Homo sapiens: one gene and its partner. Changing the gene in region 1 together with any one later gene gives a genetic interaction. Each region holds a gene or a part of one and is shown in the gene's direction. Other genes may lie near its edges.

Region 1 (3,500 bases):
TTGGTGAGAAGCACCACTGGAGCCAAGGCCACAGGGATGATGGGAAGAGAGTTCCAGGCAGAGAGAAGGGCAGATGGTAAGGCCTCGAGGGCAACACCTGCTCCTGGCTAGGGTGGGCCTAGGGGAGGGGGTTTAGGAAAGGGTATTTGGAGACCTAAAGTTGAAGGTCATTCTAAGGACTCTGGCATTGCCTTTGAGTAAAAACCTGGAAAGGATTTGAGCAGAGGCAGCATGGTCAGATTTAGACATTCAGAGAGTCACCAGGGAGGTGGTGAGAAGTAGCTGATCCCTGGATTTATTTTTAAAGCAGAACTGGCAGGATCTGCTGATGGACTGGATGTGGGGTGCGAGGGAAAGAGAGGAGTCAGGATGATGCCAAGGAATTTTAAAAAAACTATTAGGCTGGGCGCGGTGGCTCACGCCTATAATCCCAGCACTTTGGTAGTTCGAGGTGGGCAGATCATGAGGTCAGGAGATAGAGACCATTCTGGCTAACACGGTGAACCCCGTCTCCACTAAAAATACAAAAAATTCTCTGGGCGTGGTGGTGGGCGCCTGTAGTCCCAGCTACTCTGGAGGCTGAGGCAGGAGAATGGCGTGAGCCCGGGAGGCGGAGCTTGCAGTGAGCAGAGATTGCACCACTGCACTCCAGCCTGGGTGACAGAGCAAGATTCCGTCTCAAAAAAAAAATTATTATTGGCCGGGCGTGGTGGCTCACACCTGTAATCCCAGCACATCGGGAGGCTGAGGCAGGCAGATCACTTGAGGTCAGGAGTTCAAGAACAGCCTGGCCAACTTGGTGAAATCCTGTCTCTACTACAAATACACAAATTAGCTGGATGTGGTGGTGGGCGCCTGTAATCCCAGCTACCTGAGAGGCTGAGGCAGGAGAATCACTTGAACCCAGGAGGTGGAGGTCGCAGTGAGCTGAAATCCTGCCACTGCACTCCAGCCTGGGTGACAGAGCAAGAGTCCGTCTCAAAAAACAAAAAATAAATAAAAATAAAATAAATTAGGCCAGGCGCGGTGGCTCACGCCTGTAATCCCAGCACTTTGGGAGGCCGAGGCGGGCGGATCACGAGGTCAGGAGATCAAGACCATCCTGGCTAACACGGTGAAACCCCGTCTCTACTAAAAATACAAAAAATTAGCCGGGCGTGGTGGTGGGTGCCTATAGTCCCAGCTACTCGGGAGGCTGAGGCAGGAGAATGGCATGAACCCGGGAGGCAGAGCTTGCAGTGAGCCGAGATGGTGCCACTGCACTCCAGCCTGGGCGACAGAGCAAGACTCCGTCTCAAAAAAAAAAATTATTATTATTATTATTATTATTATTTTATTTTATTTTTGACATGGAGTCTTGCTCTGTCGCCCAGGCTGGAGTGCAGTGGCACCATCTCAGCTCACTGCAAGCTCTGCCTCCCGGGTTCACGCCATTCTCCTGCCTCAGCCTCCAGAGTAGCTCGGACTACAGCCTCCCGCCACCATGCCCAGCTAATTTTTTTGTGTGTTTTTAGTAGAGATGGGGTTTCACCATGTTAGCCAGGATGGTCTCGATCTCCTGACCTTGTGATCCGCCCGCCTTGGCCTCCCAAAGTGCTGGGATTACAGGCGTGAGCCACCGCGCCTGGCCAAATTATTATTAATTTTAGAGACAAGGTCTTGCTATGTTGGCCAGGCTGGTCTTGAGCTCCTGGCCCCAAGTGATCCTCCCACCTTGGCCTCACAAAGTGCTGGGATTACAGGCATGAGCCACAGTGCCCAGCCAACACCAAGGAATCTGGCTTGAGCACCCGGTAGGATGAAGTTGCTTTTAATGGAGAAGAAACACTGAAGGGTGAGGGAGGATCTGGAGGCTACCCTAGAGGGTGGGATAGAGGGGGATTTTTTTTTTTTTTTTTTTTTTGAGATAGAGTCTTACTCTGTCACCCAGGCTGGAGTGCAGTGGCACGATCTCGGCTCACTGCAACTTCCACCTCCTGGGTTCATGCCATTCTCCTGCCTGAGCCTCCCCAGTAGCTGGGATTACAGGCATGCACCATGCCCAGCTAATTTTTGTGTTTTTAGTGGAGACGGGGGTTTCACCATGTTGGCCAGGCTGGTCTCGAATTCCTGACCTCGTGATCCACCCGCCTCAGCCTCCCAAAATGCTGGGATTACAGGCATGAGCCACCGCGTCTGGCCGCTAGAGGTGGCTTTTAAGCATCTGGTGGGATTTTTAGCAGGGTGCTAGTGGGAGCTGGCAGGGACTTGGAGTCTGAACCAGAGTTGTGCTTGTCTCAGTCCAGTTAGGGGTAGGGGCTTCAGGTGTGTGCAAAGGAAGGAATGGTAGATGTGGGGTCCAAGCTGGCTGAGCTTCAGGGAAGGGAGCAAGCCCTGGGAAGCCGCAGCATCGTTGGAGTTGGGGTCCCGGGGGCATGATCCACACAGGTTGGGTCAGCTGGTGGGAAGCTTGGGATGGAGTTATTTGATGGTGACAAGGCCTAGGTTATGTCCCTGGGAATGAGTCTGAGGGGAGAGTGGGACAAGATCATGGTAGAAGGAGTAGCAAGGTACAGAAAGGAGACAGGGTGCTGGTGGAGTGGCAGAGGACAGGAGTAACATTCTGCACAGGCCAGGGACGACACCTCCCCCCAGCCCCAGCTGCAGACCCGTAGGAAAGAGGGCTGCGGGAGAAGACAGCTGCCAGGTGAGGACAGAGCTGGATTTCTTAACCTTTTGATTTAGTTTTCAGTGTCTCCAAAAGCAAGTGGTTTCCCAGAAAAGATCAGCAAGTGCCAGTGCCCCGCCAGAGCCACGGGGCCTCTGCCCTCTCTACCTGCGCAGAGCAACTCACACTTGGTTCGGTCACTCCTCATAGTCCCTGCCACCAGGCCCCCCTGCTGGATGGCTGAGGTGTCCCCAGGGCAGGGACTGCAGCCACCTTGTGCTGTGACAGCCCACACAGCCCAGTGTCTGAAACAGGTGTGGACAGTGGAGAGGCAGAAAGAAGCAGCCCAGTGCTAGCCCCTGGGCCAGACTGCAGGGTTCAAACGTGGCTCTACCCTTCCTAGCAGGTTGAGCTTGAGCAGGTTAATTAACTCCATCTGCCTGAGTTTCCTCATCTGTAAACGGGAATAGAACTAGTCCCACCTCGCAGGGCTGTGGCGAGGACCTGATGAGTTAATATAGGAAAAGTGCTTGGAAACAGTGCCTGGCGCAGAGGAGGGGCTAAGTGTTTGCGGCTCTTATTATTAGAACTGCCATTGTTATTATTTATGTATATATATATTTATATATAAATATATATATATAATTTTTTTTTCCAAGATGGAGCCTCACTCTGTCGCCCAGGCTGGAGTGCAGTGGTGCAATCTCGCCTCGCAGCAACCTCTACCTCCCAGGTTCAAGTGATTTTCTTGCCTTTATGTACATTCTTGGCTTTATATATTTATAAAGCCTCAAATTTCTGGGCTCCAGCCATCCTCCCACCTCAGCTTCCTAAGTAGCTGGGACTACAGGCG
Region 2 (3,500 bases), on another chromosome or scaffold:
AAACAGGAGAAGAAATGTACAGATTATCTTGCGTTTGGGATTTTATCTTTGGTTCAGGGGTCAAAGCAGGGTTTCAATAGCAAATTACTGAAGTATTTGAATAGTGAAGTATTTTTGTGATTTTTTTTTAACTTTACCGCTGTGGAGAGACTGTTCACTTTCATTAAAAATTACAGGGCAAATACCCAAACTCCTTCCAAGTCAAAAGGATGTTGTCCAGTTTGTTTTATTGTTAAGAAAACTATCAACTTCCTTAAGAATGTTTGAATAAGATTCAATAGGGCCGAATAAGGAAAATCAAAGTAGTAGTGTAAATCGTAGTATAATTCTTGTTGTTGAGAAGTATAGCCTTTTTTTTCTTTTCAAATTTTCTTGTTCTTTTTTGTTTTTTGTTTTGTTGAGACAGGGTCTTGCTTTGTCACCCAAACTGGAGTGCAGTGGTACAGTCATAGCTCATGGCAGCTTAGACCTCCTGGGCTCAAGTGATCCTCCTGCCTCAGCCTCCCAAGTAGCTAGGACTGCAGGTGTGCACCCCCACATCCAGCTAATTATTTTATTTCTTGTAGAGTTCGAGTTTCACTTTGTCACCCAGGCTGGTCACCGGCTAACTTATTTTTTGTAGAGATGGAGTTTTGCTTTGTTGCCCAAGCTGGTCACAAACTCTTTTTTTTAAATAGAAACATCTTCAAGCACAATGTCCTTGCTTTCTTGTTATGAAGAGTGCTCTTAAGGCCTTCATGGATTGTCACTGCCTCATAATAATGTTTTGAATACCTACGTAACTTGTATGTAAATACATACTGCTGCAAAAAGACCAACTTTTCAAAAATTTATTTATTTATTTTTTTATTTAAGAAGAATGCCAGTAACTCTTGTTGGCCTGGTCTGGATTTCAGCATCAGGTTGGCCTGGTCTGGATTCCTTTCAATAATGAATGAAAAGCTTTGAGGAAAGAATGTAAATATAATGAAATTTCAAAAGAGTTACATGTGGGCCTTGAAAAGTTAGGGGGAAAGATGAGGAGAAATACTCTTCATTCTCTCCTCCCCTTGTCCCAAAGCTCCTCTCTTCTTCTTCTTGCAAGAGGATTGAACTAGTGATTATAAAACTGTAAAGATTATACAACATACGGCAATGAGTATAATCACAATTATTGGACCACCCTTCACAGTCTATTATGTTAGAGAACGGAGAAGCATTCACAGAAGTTTCTCTGAATCTCTTAGTCATTCCCAAAAACCCAAACCAGAAAATATCTCATGTCATTGTATGTTATGTACAAATTGGCATAAGGAACAGCTCTTAGTTTGTAAAGTCTTTTAGATAATGGAGAAAGCTTCCAGCTTTTAGTTTTCAAGCTTGATCATTAGGAGGAGAATTCACTCTGTGGTTGTTTTCTACTTTGTGTTGCTTGGACAGCACAAACCTCTTATCTAGCCTTGTTTCCTTTCCAAGTAAAAAGGGACTTTGTGAGGATTGGTAGAGTTAGAACACTAAGAAATTCTGAGGCTGTAAATCAGGAACAAATCGGGTGATGGGAAACAGACGTGTTGTTCATCTATTGAGGAAGACACATTTGCTTTTTTATGTGTTACTCAAAAGATTAATATGTAGCCTCTTAATGCCTGTGTACATAACTTTCTCTGTACCACTATGTATTTCCATAGATGATATTTTTGAAAGAGAATTACCCTTAATTAATTAAAGGAAATCTACACTTTTAAGGCTGTTAATACCTATTGTCAAATTATTCTCCAGAATGTTCACTGAAGCCCTAATTGTAATAACAAAGTATTAGAAACAACCATCTCAGTAGTAGTTAACCATTGCCATTTAGATAATGGTTAAAGTATGGTATATCTTTATAAAAGATGAGATGCAATGCAGTTGTTCAAAAGAATGAATGTCAGTATATATTGATAGGGAAGACATCTGAAAAACGACTTACAGAATATGTCAGTATGTGTGTATGGTACAGTTCCATTTCTTTATAAAAACAAAAGCAAAAACAGACCTATATTTCATTGACAAAAACTCTGCAAGTCTCCATGTGAAACTGTCAAAAGTGGCTCCTTTGGGAGTAGGAACGGGAGGTTGGGAGAGATGTTAATTTTTAATTTTATGTACTGATGTTTACGTTTTCTAGGAACACATTTTTCCAGTAAGGAATGGTTTTTCTATGATATAGAATATAATTGTAGTAGCTAAAACTTTCTTAGGGACCTTTCTTATTGTTCTGCGTGCTATATTCATTTAATCCTCCTAACAAAGTCTTCGAGGTAGATACAGTTATTATCTCTATTTTATAGATGAGAAAACTGAGGCACAAAGAGGTTAAGTACCCTGTGCGAGGGTAACAGCTATAACTGAGAGTGGGAGCCTGGCTTCAGTCTCAGCCCCTGACCACACTATACCAGTGTATCCCAAGTACAAATTGTCCGCCTTAAGTAGAAATGCTTTCAGTTATGATTCAGGGTGTGGAGGCCACAGCAGAGATCACTTTTACTAAGCTTTTCTAGGTATGTCTCTTTCAGGTTCCAAAAGTATATATTGGATTATGATTGCTTATGTGTTTTTAATGAAGAAAATAGGATCCAGACATTGATTTGAAAGTCCTTCAAAAAAGTAAAAACCAGGTTGGGAGCAGTGGCTCATACCTGTAAGCCCAGCACTTTGGGAGGCTGAGGTGGGAGGATTGCTGAAGCCCAGGAGTTTGAGACCAACCTGGGCAATGTAGGGAGACCCTGTCTCTACTAAATAAATAAATAAATAAATAAATAAATAAATAAGTCGGGCATGGTGGCATGTGCCCTGTAGTCCCAGCTTCTTGGGAGGCTGAGGTGGGAGGATTGCTTGGGCCCAGGAATCAAGGCCGCAGTGAGCTGTGATTGTGCCACTGTACTACAGCCTGGGTGACAATGCAAGACTGTCTCAAAAGAAAAACAAAAGTAAGGACCAGAAAACCTGATATTGTTTGTTACACCCTTTTTTCTCTTCGATTGCCTACTTCAAGTGAATATTAATTGTATTTTAGGGAAGACTGACTTCCACAGAGACCTATCTGGAACTCCTGGTTCCTTACCTCTGCTTCTGTCAGAGCAGCTCTGGGTTTTGGTTTGTTACTATTGTACACATTAGGCTTCTATACAAGAAGAACTGGTCCCATTGGTTTAAAAATAAGTTTGAAAATCCTAGAAACAGTGAGAGTCAGAAAAAAAAACTGTTTTTATATACATATTCTCTCCCCCACCCCCTTTCTCTCCAGTTGAAATATGTTGCAGAGCTCTAAATTTAGGGATGCTTTTGGCGTATTTCTTATACACTCCAGAGGCACTCGAGATAAATTATCTTCAATGTTAGATCTCTCTTAGCTTTGCTAGTTGTATTTGTTAATCCATTTTGAGTTCTCTAGCCTGTGTCCATTTTATGTGTGTATAGAATGAGGCCATGGAGATGTTGTACAACTGTGTCGTTTGGCAGCAGAGTCCTAAGGAATTGGT

What was found.
Region 2: changes in BAD (region 1) and BNIP3L together harm fitness more than expected from each alone (negative genetic interaction), as found in Homo sapiens cells (one large-scale study listed by BioGRID).

Annotation. Positions count from the first base shown.
Region 1 is NC_000011.10:64,278,166-64,281,665, reverse strand, and holds part of BAD (bcl2-associated agonist of cell death), read left to right. Parts: intron 1-3,500. UniProt on the Homo sapiens protein: Promotes cell death. Successfully competes for the binding to Bcl-X(L), Bcl-2 and Bcl-W, thereby affecting the level of heterodimerization of these proteins with BAX. Can reverse the death repressor activity of Bcl-X(L), but not that of Bcl-2.
Region 2 is NC_000008.11:26,386,054-26,389,553, forward strand, and holds part of BNIP3L (BCL2/adenovirus E1B 19 kDa protein-interacting protein 3-like), read left to right. Parts: intron 1-3,500.